Linked DNA regions of Homo sapiens. The protein of the gene in region 2 purifies or fractionates together with the protein of the main gene of each other region. This does not show direct contact. Each region holds a gene or a part of one and is shown on either strand. Other genes may lie near its edges.

Region 1 (3,653 bases), on a different chromosome or scaffold from region 2:
GCCACAAACTCTGGCGTGGAGTTTTTCTGCTTTTCTTTCTGTTTTTGACAATACTTTCACAAGTCACCACCTCGTGGTTTGTTAGACATCACCTGATCTGAAGTCTGACTTCTCTATTCATAATCTCGATTTCTCTTTTTCCTTCCTGGCGTACCCACTATGCCTTCCCCTTCCCTCTTTGTAGTTGCTAGGCAGCCATAATAGTACTCCTAGACATGTGTCTTTGGCATTAATGTTGGCCACACTTAATTTATGCCTCTTTTTTTCCTCCAAATGACAACAGCCATGCTTTAAAACTAGATGTTTTCCTTTCTGATTAACTGGTAACGTTTATGTGGAAATCTGAAGACTTTGTGATGTCTGTCAGAAACTCTGCAACCCAATTCAGTGATCTGAGTTTACTATCCCCTAGCTTTTAAGCTATCACCTGTAAATAAAATGTCTGTTTACACTTTGAAGAAAACACTTCTTGATTTCATGCAGTTAAGATTCACATTGCACTCCAGCATGTTGCAGTTAATGGCTACTGTATGAAATTTCAAGATCATGTAATGTTTCCAAACCAGCTGGCATTCTGAGCCGAGTTTATTATGGCCATACACAATTTCCTAGGAGCCATGATGACTACGGCCTTGCTTAAAGACACAAATGTCTTCATCTGACGTCCAATTTTAGAAATTCGTTACTTCATCTCACAGTCACCTTCATATTTAAAAAATTACATTACAGCCCTGAGATTTTATTTATAAATCCACTTTTACCTGATTGATTTCTAAAGTCACATTCTTAGATTTCTGTTTTTGGTGGAAAATTGTTAAGTGAAGGATTTTACTGCCATGCATTTATTTCATCAGTAATAAGCGGCATTTAATCCTGAGACATTTCTTATTTAAGTGAACTCTGGCATGGCTCAGTATATCCTGAGGAGATTAGTAAGAGAATCCAGTTTAAAATAACTGCTTGGCCAAAGGGAAAAAAGAAAGAAATGCAGCCACAGAATCAGGAAATTATAGTGTTGAAGGAATGACAGCTGTTTTGGGTAACTCTACAACTCATGGATTTTTTCTTTTAGGGATTCAGTGGTTGAGTTTTTTTGCCCCACCCAAAGGTTTTTCTTCTGTCCTTTTTGCTTATTTTTCTTCCTTTTCTTTTCTGATCCATTGCTAGACAGCTTATTTTTCTTGATGTTTAGATTGTTAGTTGATTTCACAGCCTTTCCCTCATCCACTAGATAAATGCAATCTAAAAATGTAATTAAACTCCAATCTTTAGGGCAGAGGAGAACTATTTTTCCCATTGAAATAATTTGATTATTTCTTTTTTCATTCTGTCTCTTCTCTGGAGAAAAATTATTGTTTTTACTTGTTGGCTTAGAACTTGCTCTAAATGCCAAATTTTAAAAAGGAAAACTTTCCAGGGAAGTTTAGCAGAAGTTATGCACCAAAAGGATGTGTATCCTGGCTCAGGAGTCAGTGGACTTGTGCTGTTCAACACAATTCTCAACTCTGCTGCCAACTTTTTGGATGACCTTGGCCACTTAATTTCTCTAGACCTCACTCCTAGTGCCTGTAAAACAGATAGGTTAAGCAGGTGATTTCTAAGGGCCTTTCCAATTCTAATATTCTATGGCTCTGTCCTCTGAAAGAATCACAGCGCCAGTCTTAGATTTCTCTCACCGTTCTCCAGTATGACAAGGTGTATTCCATGCAGAAAATGGTTGTAGAGATTCCAGTGTTTACACAGACAGTAGGTAGGGGACAAGTCCTGTGCTGCTTCTTCAGATTATCAGATTTTTATTTGGTTTGTACTGGTCCCAGATTATTATCAAATACAGAGAAGTTTTGGGATTTGGGGGAGGGTGAGGTGGAGTGGATTGTTGAGTAGCACAAATCCATATTTCCTTATAGCTTTGGGTTACTGGTGGTTCTAATGCCCATCTTGGTTTCATTTTAGGCTTTGGGCGTTGCCTTGTATATAAAAATGCTAAATGTACGTTGAAACGATACACCAATCAGACTTTTGATAAAGTGATGGGGCCCATGTTGGATGCTGCTACAAGGAAACCTATCTGGCGACATGAAATCTTAGATGCAGATGGTATTTGTTCTCCAGGTAAAAGCCTTTTAAAAGAAAAAATTTTAATACTTTTTGACATCATATGTTATTCAATAATATTTCTGAATATTTGGCAAAAAGGGCAGAAAAAAGTAACAACCTATAAAACCACCATCCAAACTCAACCAATGAGGTCATTTTTGATGAATTTCCTTCCAGTCTGTTTTTCTATACACTATGTTTTTACCTATCAGTAATCTATGCTAACTATAATTTTCTAGTTATAATTTTGAATAATAGAAAAGCCACTTTAAGGAAATATTTAGAGTAGTTTATGTCCCTGCATCTGCACTGGTATTTCTTCATTTACACATTTAGCTTACAGACTACTTTAGAATTTTATCCCCCTGCAAAGGTATGACTCCATTATAATTACAAACTTGTAATGCATTTTGTTGATGAAACAAATAGCCCTTGCCCTTATGGGTCTCACAGGCTAGTGCAGGAGACTGACATTGATCAGAGGATCATGCATAAATCCAGGTTAAGGAATCATATAGGTAACTATGAGGCCATTTTATAGCAAGAGAATTTGACCTTGTTGGGAAGATCAGCATGGCTTTCCCGAGGAAGTGAGCTGGAATCTGAAGGATAGGGAAGAGTTAACTAAAGAAGAGGATCAGGGAGCATGTTCTAAGTAATGAGAAAAGCTTGTGCAAGGGTCCCAGAGCTTGGTAGTTGAAAGGTCTGAAAGAAGACCAGCGTGGCTAACAAGAAGAGAGTGCAGGGAAGCATGGTGCACATGAGTTGGTGGGTGACGCAAGGGGTAGGGGCCAGAGTAAGCAAGTCCTTGCAACCATGTTAGTATTGTCTTTATTTTATTTTATTAATTTTATTTTTGAGACAGGGTCTCAGTCTGTCACTGAGGCTGGAGTGCAGTGGCACAATCTCAGCTCACTGCAACCTCTGCCTCCCAGACTCAAGTGATTCTCCCACTTCAACCTCCTGTATAGCTGGGACCCATAGGCACGTGCCACCATGCCTGGATAGTTTTTTGTATTTTTTGTAGAGATGAGGTCTTACCATCTTGTCCAGGCTTGTCTTGAACTCCTGGGCTCAAGTTCTCCACCCACCTCGGCTTCCCAAAGTGCTTGAGCCACCATGCCGAGCCCATGATACTATTTTCATTATGATCCTAAAAGCAATGATATATTCAGATATGTGTTTTGAATGATCATTCTGACTACAGTGTAGAAAAAGGATTAGAAGGGCACTAAAATAGAAGGTAGACCTGGTACCAGGAGCTGTGGTGAAGGTGGAGAGAACCCAGTTTGTGAGGAGGGAAATCCACATGACTTTGTCATGGTTGGCCTGTGGGCGGTGAATGCTTTATCAAGCTGTGGTTCCAAAGAGACACAGAGTACGCGACTTCTCCTCCCTCCCTCTGCCTTTGTTTCTTGGAGAATTTTTCTCACCCTAACACTGGTCAGTATGGCTTGGAAAATACGCGCTGTGACAGTACTACAGGTAGTTGGTCTTTGAACTTACCAGGAAGAGATACAAAGCAAAAATGGGAATAACAGCATAACCAAAGAAAT
Region 2 (3,653 bases):
TCCAAGAAATCACTAACCAACCCTCAGCCACTTCCATCAGCTTTTCCACAGGGACCCAGCTTCCTATTTAGTGCTATTTCTCCTTTTATGGCAATTGGCACATACAACTTTGCATAAAACAATCCAGGTAGACACTGTCTTATTTAAAGCTTTAAGTTATAAAAGGAATACATGTTCATTGTAGAACATTTCAAAAATACAAGACAGTATAAGAAAAAAAATCAAAATTGACTGGATTCTTAGCACCCCATGTTAACACTTCTTTCCATGCTTTTTTGTGCAAAACTCTTATGTATTTTTGGTAAAATTCAGTCCACACTGAAACTGTTGTATACCTTGCCTTTCTCAACTCAACTTTGTACTCTCAGTACAGTATGTTCCACATCCTTAACTCTGCTGTGGAAATGGGATTATCAATGGATGCATCTCATTTTAACACAGAGTTGTATCAAAATGTATTCAGTGTCATGAAATACCATTGGATATAGAGGATGCTTCCATTTTTTAATAGGTAATTAATGTCTCAGTATGCATTTCTGGTTAGATGATGGGAATGACCAACTATTTTTTTTTTTTTTTTTTTTTTTTTGGGATGGAGTCTCACCCTTTTGCCCAGTCTGGAGTGCAGTGGCACAATCTTGGCTCGCTGAAACCTCCACCTCCTGGGTTCAAGCGATTCTCCTGCCTCAGCCTCCCGAGTAACTGGGACTACAGGCACGTGACACCACGCCCAGCTAATTTTTTGCATTTTTAGTAGAGATGGGGTTTCACTGTGTTAGCCAGGATGGTCTCCATCTCCTGACCTCATGATCCGCCCACCTCGGCCTCCCAAAGTGCTGGGATTACGGGCGTGGGCCACCACACCCAGCCAGGGAATGACCAACTTTAAGGCTTCTAATGTGTATCATCAAATGGCCTCAAAAAGGTTGTAGCAATTCCTCCTCCCACCAGCACAGTGTTTGGGGCTGCCTATTTCACTGCACTCTCCTTGTAGGCTGTATTTGAAATTATTTTACAAATGTACAGTGCTGTGTTCTCTTGCCCTTTCTACTGAAGTTTCTCCAGGAACATGGTTAATGTCATGTTTTCTGGGGCCACTCAGTCTTCTCCTCATCTCACTGTCAGCCATTCATAGTGGTTAGGCAGTGAGTGTGTTTTATGTCTAGGGTATTGAAACTCTAAATACAGAAGCTTCCAGAAGCAAAGTGAAAAAGCTAGGAGAAATTTCTCAGTTCCTGAGTGGGTCTTTCTGTTTTATTTTATAGCTACCCAGAAATGGTGACTGGATTTTTCTTCATCCTGATGACCGTACTGTGGTTTACCCGGGAGCCTGGCTTTGTCCCTGGCTGGGATTCTTTCTTTGAAAAGTAAGTGATATCATTTCCTCCTTAAGAACAACCCCCTCACCCCAATTCTTCAGGCAAGACTTCATAGACTCTCAGGGGCAGATATGAAGCCAGGAAGATTTCATTCCCCAGGAAATCCACTCTTTTTAGGGAGGCTGCAGTGTGAAATCAGGAAGGAAAAACACTCTTTGGAGTCCCGGTCTGGGGTTGGAATCCAGTGCTGCATGTAGTCTCATTACATAAGCTCTTGGAAGCTTGGTTACCTCATAGGTGGTTATGAAAGTTAAAGGAGGAAACATCTATAAAGTACCAACTGTAAAGAAGAAATCAACTTCTCACTTGAGAAGGGAGGCACATGGAGGTGTGGCCTTCATAGGAAAGAGGTCTCATCCTCTTCTATTCTCCTTTATCTAACCAACTCCACTCCTGATCACTCCATCTAGGACTTGCCCCAATTAACGGGCTCACAAATTCACATTAAGACATCTACTCTAGCCAGGCCCTGCCTCCAGACATTCGCCATTGCCCATTAAATCCAAAGTGGATAGCGTGGCAGCAACTGGCAAGAACTAAGCTTAATGTTACCTCTAGATAAGTCCTAAAAAGAGGCACTGTGTTCGGACAGACTGCTCCGAGACATCATGTTACTCCTGAAAATTCCTGACCCTTCTCCTCAGCTATGCTTGTCTCTTTACTAGGAAAGGCTACCGTACTGATGCCACAGTCTCTGTCTTCCTTGGCTTCCTCCTCTTCCTCATTCCAGCGAAGAAGCCCTGCTTTGGGAAAAAGAATGATGGTGAGAGAAGGGAAGAAACTGGGGGTAGCTCTAGTTGAAGAATACCCAAATCAGACTAATACTCCCAAAGAGATTTACCAAGGTCCTTCAGATTCCCACCCCCCTCCCGGCCCCCGCCCCAAATAGCAGTATCCCAAATCATCCACTTCACCAATTAGGCTCCTGTCTCCACAAATCACGTCCATCAGGGTTTATCTGGCTTTACATCTCTCTCTAATCCAGGAGAGAACCAGGAGCACTCACTGGGGACCGAGCCCATCATCACGTGGAAGGACTTCCAGAAGACCATGCCCTGGGAGATTGTCATTCTGGTTGGGGGAGGCTATGCTCTGGCTTCTGGTAGCAAGGTAATTCTTGAATTCTGTTTTTTTGGGGTTTTTTTTTTTGAGACAGTCTTGCTCTGTCACCCAGGCTGGAGTGCAGTGGCACAATCTCAGCTCACTGCAACCTCCGCCTCCTGGGTTCAAGCGATTCTCTTGCCTCAGCCTCCCAAGTAGCTGGGATTACAGGCGTGCACCATGATGCCAGCTAGTTTTTGTATTTTTAGTAGAGACGCGGTTTCACCATGTTGGCCAGGCTAGTCTCAAACTCCTGACCTCAAGTGATCCACCTGCCTCGGCCTCCCAAAATGCTGGGATGACAGGCATGAGCCACTGCACCCGGCTTGAATTCTGTTCTTATGGGTCAAATACTTTTCCAGCATCTTTACCTAATGAGTCATTATGGGCATGGGAGGAAAGACTCAAAGCAGCTGAGAATGTTCACAGAGTCCCTGGGAAGGGAAACAATAGAGCAGGATGGATGTCCTCTGCTGCCCTAAGCTTCTCAGCGCTACTAGGAACAGAGGAACAGATGGGCTGTGCCACACAGTCATGACACATGGGCATTGATAGTTCATCTATGGGGCCCATGCTGCTACAAGCAAAAGGTTTATTGGAGTTTGCAGCCATCTCCTTCTGGGATTTGACAGTGGCAATAGGAGATGGTAACAGGAGATAGACATAGGTAATAGGTAATAGGAGTGGTAATAGGCGATCTCTGTAAGGGACCAGAGATGCTCCAAGTGACACATGGTGAACTGTCTGTCCACAATACATAGACTGAGCCCCTTTGGAAAATCTAGGCTAAAGCTGATGTAAATGCTTCTTGATTTTCTGACTGGGAGGATTTTGGATGAGATCTTTTAAGTGGGGTGGGGATGTGAGGGGATGATTGAATTTCCTAAAGTGTTAGCCCTCCATAAAATAGAAAACAATCTTAAGAATGAATTAGGTTAAGGTTCAGACTATTTCTCCCTCCATCTCATCTACATGCATTATCCCATGCTAAACTTGGTTCTCTTTTTTTTTTTTTTTTTTTTTTTTTTTGAGACAGAGTCTCACTCTGTCACCTAGGCTGGAGTGCAGTGGCGCCATCTCTGCTCACTGCAACCCCTGCCTCCCAGGTTCAAGCAATTCTCATGCCTCAGCCTCCCAAATAGCTGGGATCACAAGCACACGCCACCACACCCA
Region 3 (3,653 bases), on a different chromosome or scaffold from region 2:
ACCTCCAACTTCTCTCTAATGAGGCTCTTGGGAGCTGTACAAAAAGGTGAGGCTGGAGTTTGACTGTTGTCTTCTGTTGCAGGTTCTGGGCATTTGGAAAAGTTTCTCTTCGGGCTGTTAAGCAAGGCTAAAGAGGAGAGGAAAAAAATGTTAAAATGTGTGTTGTCTTCCTAGTTTTCCATTTGTCTGTGTTCATTTTGGAGTTGGACATAATTGAAAGCACCAAAGCTAATAACAGCTACCATTTATTCAACAGCTTGTATTTTTTAATACCTACCCCCAACTTTCCCTTGCCCACATTGATTGTGCCTCCTCCCAAAGCCAGAAAAACTCTAAACCTCAAGTTAACCAGTTGTATTAGCCTCCTCCCACTAAAGATTTTAACCAAGCACCCAAAACAAGAGTAACTAATTTGAATCTAGTCAAGTTAAGGTTCTTTGATGTTAGCCTTTATGTGTTTAAAATATGTGCGTGTAAATCTCTGAATTACAGTTCCATCACTCAGGCTAACTGGGAAAACTTGAATGACTCGCGGATACTGGCCCTAGTTTCAGTTGCTGTAACAACAAGCCGTGTTTCCTTTTGAACAGGCTGGATCAGGTGCAACACCACCATAAGGAAGAGTGGATTCGGTGGCATCACGATGCTCTTCACAGGATACTTCGTCCTGTGTTGTAGCTGGAGTTTCAGACGTCTGAGTAAGTCTTTCTATATTTCTAGCCTAAATAACAGGTCCCATTCCGTTATGTGGACCTCCAAGGGATTCTCTGAATTTTTTTTTTTTTTTTTTTTTTTTACAGCTTTACAGTATCTGGCATGCCCTGGTGAATGAGCTATTGCCTGGGGTTTCTGGGTTTTATTTTTTTGAGATACAGTTTTGCTCTTGTTGCCCAGGCTGGAGTGCAATGGCACGATCTCAGCTCACTGCAACCTCTGCCTCCTGGGTTCAAGTGATTCTCCTGCCTCAGCCTCTCGAGTAGCTGGGATTATAGGCATGCACCACCATGCCCGGCTAATTTTGTATTTTTAGTAGAGACGGGGTTTCTCCATGTGGGTCAGGCTGGTCTCGAACTGCCGACCTCAGGTGATCCGCCCACCTCAGCCTCCCAAAGTGCTAAGATTACAGGCATAAGCCACTGCACCTGGCAGGCTCCGGGGTTTTATTAGAGGCTTGGTTGTAATGGCCTGTATAAGATTTGACTAGAATTTACATAATTGCCCTTGTCCTCCATTTCATGTTGTCTTTTTTTTTTTTTTTTCCCACCCAGGCTAGAGTGCAGTGGCATGATCTCAGCTCACTGTAACCTCTGCCTCCTAGGTTCAAGTGATTCTTCTGCCTCAGCCTCCTGAGTAGCTGGGACTACAGGTGTGTGTCACCATGCCTGGCTAACTTTGTTTTTGTATTTTTAGTAGAGACAGGGTTTTCACCATATTGGCCAGGCTAGTCTCGAACTCCTGACCTCATGATTCTCCTGCCTCGGCCTCCCAAAGTGCTGGAATTACAGGCATGAGCCACCGCACTCAGCCTTTGTAGCTTTTTTCCCTTCCCTGCTAAAAGGTCAGGTACCTAAGAACTGTTACCCTGCTCCAATGGAAGGTGCTTTTCCTTGGTGCCTAAGAGCACCTTTTTGGCATTGAAACCAAACACCTTTACACCACAAAAGAGAGAAGGAGGAATAGAATACAGCTGTCACTTACCAATGTGTCTAAGTCTTATTGCTATCTCAGTTAATCTACTTTGAACACTTAAAAAACAAAGTGCCATTCTCCAAGTTTCAGCTTGCACTAAGTCTTAACCAGAAGGAAAATACCTTAATTTCATTTATCTTAATTCAAGATGTGTTTGTTCATTTCTTATTGTATTATTAAAAAAATCCTTCTAGTTAAAAAGATGAGTGGGTATCAAAAATATCAGCATTTTTGTATAATTAAATTTTTGTGCTGGTTTTTGTACAATCAAAAACCAGTATTTTGGGGCCGGGCGCGGTGGCTCACGCCTGTAATCCCAGCACTTTGGGAGGCCGAGGCTGGCAGATCACCTGAGGTCATGAGTTCAAGACCAGCCTGCCCAACGTGGTGAAACCCTGTCTCTACTAAAAATACAAAGATTAGCTGGGCGTGGTGGCGGGCGCCTGTAGTCCCAGCTACTCGGGAGGCTGAGGCAGGAGAATTGCTAGAACCCAGGAGGCAGAGGTTGCAGTGAGCCGAGATCGCGCCACTACTCCAGCCTGGGCAACAAGTGAAACTGCATCTCAAAAAAAAAAAAAAAAAAAAAAAACCACCAGTATTTTTGTACAATTAAAACAAAAAGCCCACTTTCAGATGAAAACTTCAGGTGTAAAAGTACAAGATAACGATGAATTCTGAAGGCCAGCATAATTCACACACTGGACTTCTTAAGAAAAAAAAAAATCACAATTTGATGCTAATTGGGATTCGTTTGATGAAATCAGTGCCTAGTGAGTAGCGGGTAGGTCCGACAGCAGGAACAAGGCGGCAGCACTCCTGCATGCTGGCTGGGATGGCCTCGCCGCCATCTCTTGTATCAGACACCTGGCCATGGGTGAGGAAAAGAAGTGCCTTTCTGATCGTCCTGCATAAATGGAGAGGCCCAAAACCAAGAGTCATTTCTCCCACAGAGAAAAGGGCTTTTCTTAAAGTTTTACCAGTCTGAAAGGGATTGTTTGATACCTGACATTAATGAACAGAGACTGAAGAAAGTGAAACAAACTTCTCATTGTGCTTAATACTCTATTTCTAAACTTATAAAACAAAAAGAGAATGATCTGTAGAGGCAAAAGATAGTAACAGTCATTGGAAGTGGCCTCTCGGATCCTTACATTTGTCTCTGTTTATCCAAAGAGCTGCAGCGGTGGCGTAAGTAGTGTTGACCTGGACATCACTTAAAGCTCTGGAACAGCAAAGGGCGTACAGTGGAGACGACTGCAATACATACTTAACAGTTTAAAAATGTATAATATTTGGGACAGGGAGAGGGGAGTGAAAAAAATAAAGAATAAAATTATTGGAATCTAAAATAATGATACAGGAAGTAAACGTATTATTAATATAGACAGATCTGGTTCTGTCTGGATGTTCTTGGCTTGCTCTCAGGAGCAACTGAGAATTAGAGAAAAACTAGTTTTGTTTAACCATAAAGTTGTTATTCAAGGAGATGTGAAGATGACAAAGTTCATCACTAAAATTAAGAAGTCACTTCTCAGTAAAAAGCTAGTATCTCATTACCATTCAGCTATATGAGATACCAGACTACTACCTATATGTTGATACAGGAAAGTATCTGAATTGGCAGAAAATAAGCCCACATCAGGCCCTTCCCCTTAGTTTCTTTGGGGCCCTTGACCAGATCTTGATAAGGTGTGAGAAACACAAGAGCTAAGGATGGGCATTCGAGTTGCAGGTAAGCCTCCGAAAAAAAGCTTACAAATATTTTTAAGCTGATTTTTAAAATAGCACACTAACTATAATGTTAAATCACATTTTATACATCTTAATTGAGTATAATAATGAACCGGTGGCTAATGTATCATCTCTTCCTGGAAACTTTTCAGAATCCCACCCCTATCTATCCCTTTCTCAAGAGTTTCTGTGCATTACTGAGAAATTCCTCTCCATTTGTTAGGGTTGTTTTT

What was found.
Region 1: the proteins of SLC13A4 (region 2) and POLR3B purify together in Homo sapiens (affinity purification with mass spectrometry; one large-scale study listed by BioGRID and IntAct). This does not show direct contact.
Region 3: the proteins of SLC13A4 (region 2) and MTNAP1 purify together in Homo sapiens (affinity purification with mass spectrometry; one large-scale study listed by BioGRID and IntAct). This does not show direct contact.

The regions. Positions count from the first base shown.
Region 1 is NC_000012.12:106,455,185-106,458,837, forward strand, and holds part of POLR3B (DNA-directed RNA polymerase III subunit RPC2), read left to right. Parts: intron 1-1,953; coding exon 1,954-2,112; intron 2,113-3,653. UniProt on the Homo sapiens protein: Catalytic core component of RNA polymerase III (Pol III), a DNA-dependent RNA polymerase which synthesizes small non-coding RNAs using the four ribonucleoside triphosphates as substrates.
Region 2 is NC_000007.14:135,690,037-135,693,689, reverse strand, and holds part of SLC13A4 (solute carrier family 13 member 4), read left to right. Parts: intron 1-1,265; coding exon 1,266-1,367; intron 1,368-1,931; exon of another isoform or gene 1,932-2,044; coding exon 2,045-2,142; intron 2,143-2,364; coding exon 2,365-2,489; intron 2,490-3,653. UniProt on the Homo sapiens protein: Sodium:sulfate symporter that mediates sulfate reabsorption in the high endothelial venules (HEV).
Region 3 is NC_000017.11:73,242,306-73,245,958, forward strand, and holds part of MTNAP1 (mitochondrial nucleoid-associated protein 1), read left to right. Parts: coding exon 1-46; exon of another isoform or gene 47-117; coding exon of another isoform or gene 118-127; intron 128-590; coding exon 591-698; intron 699-2,862; coding exon of another isoform or gene 2,863-2,885; exon of another isoform or gene 2,886-3,041; intron 3,042-3,653. Other genes in the region: CPSF4L (putative cleavage and polyadenylation specificity factor subunit 4-like protein), read right to left, coding at 118-127. UniProt on the Homo sapiens protein: Critical regulator of mitochondrial DNA (mtDNA) abundance. Binds dsDNA throughout the mitochondrial genome without sequence specificity and controls mtDNA copy number by promoting its replication.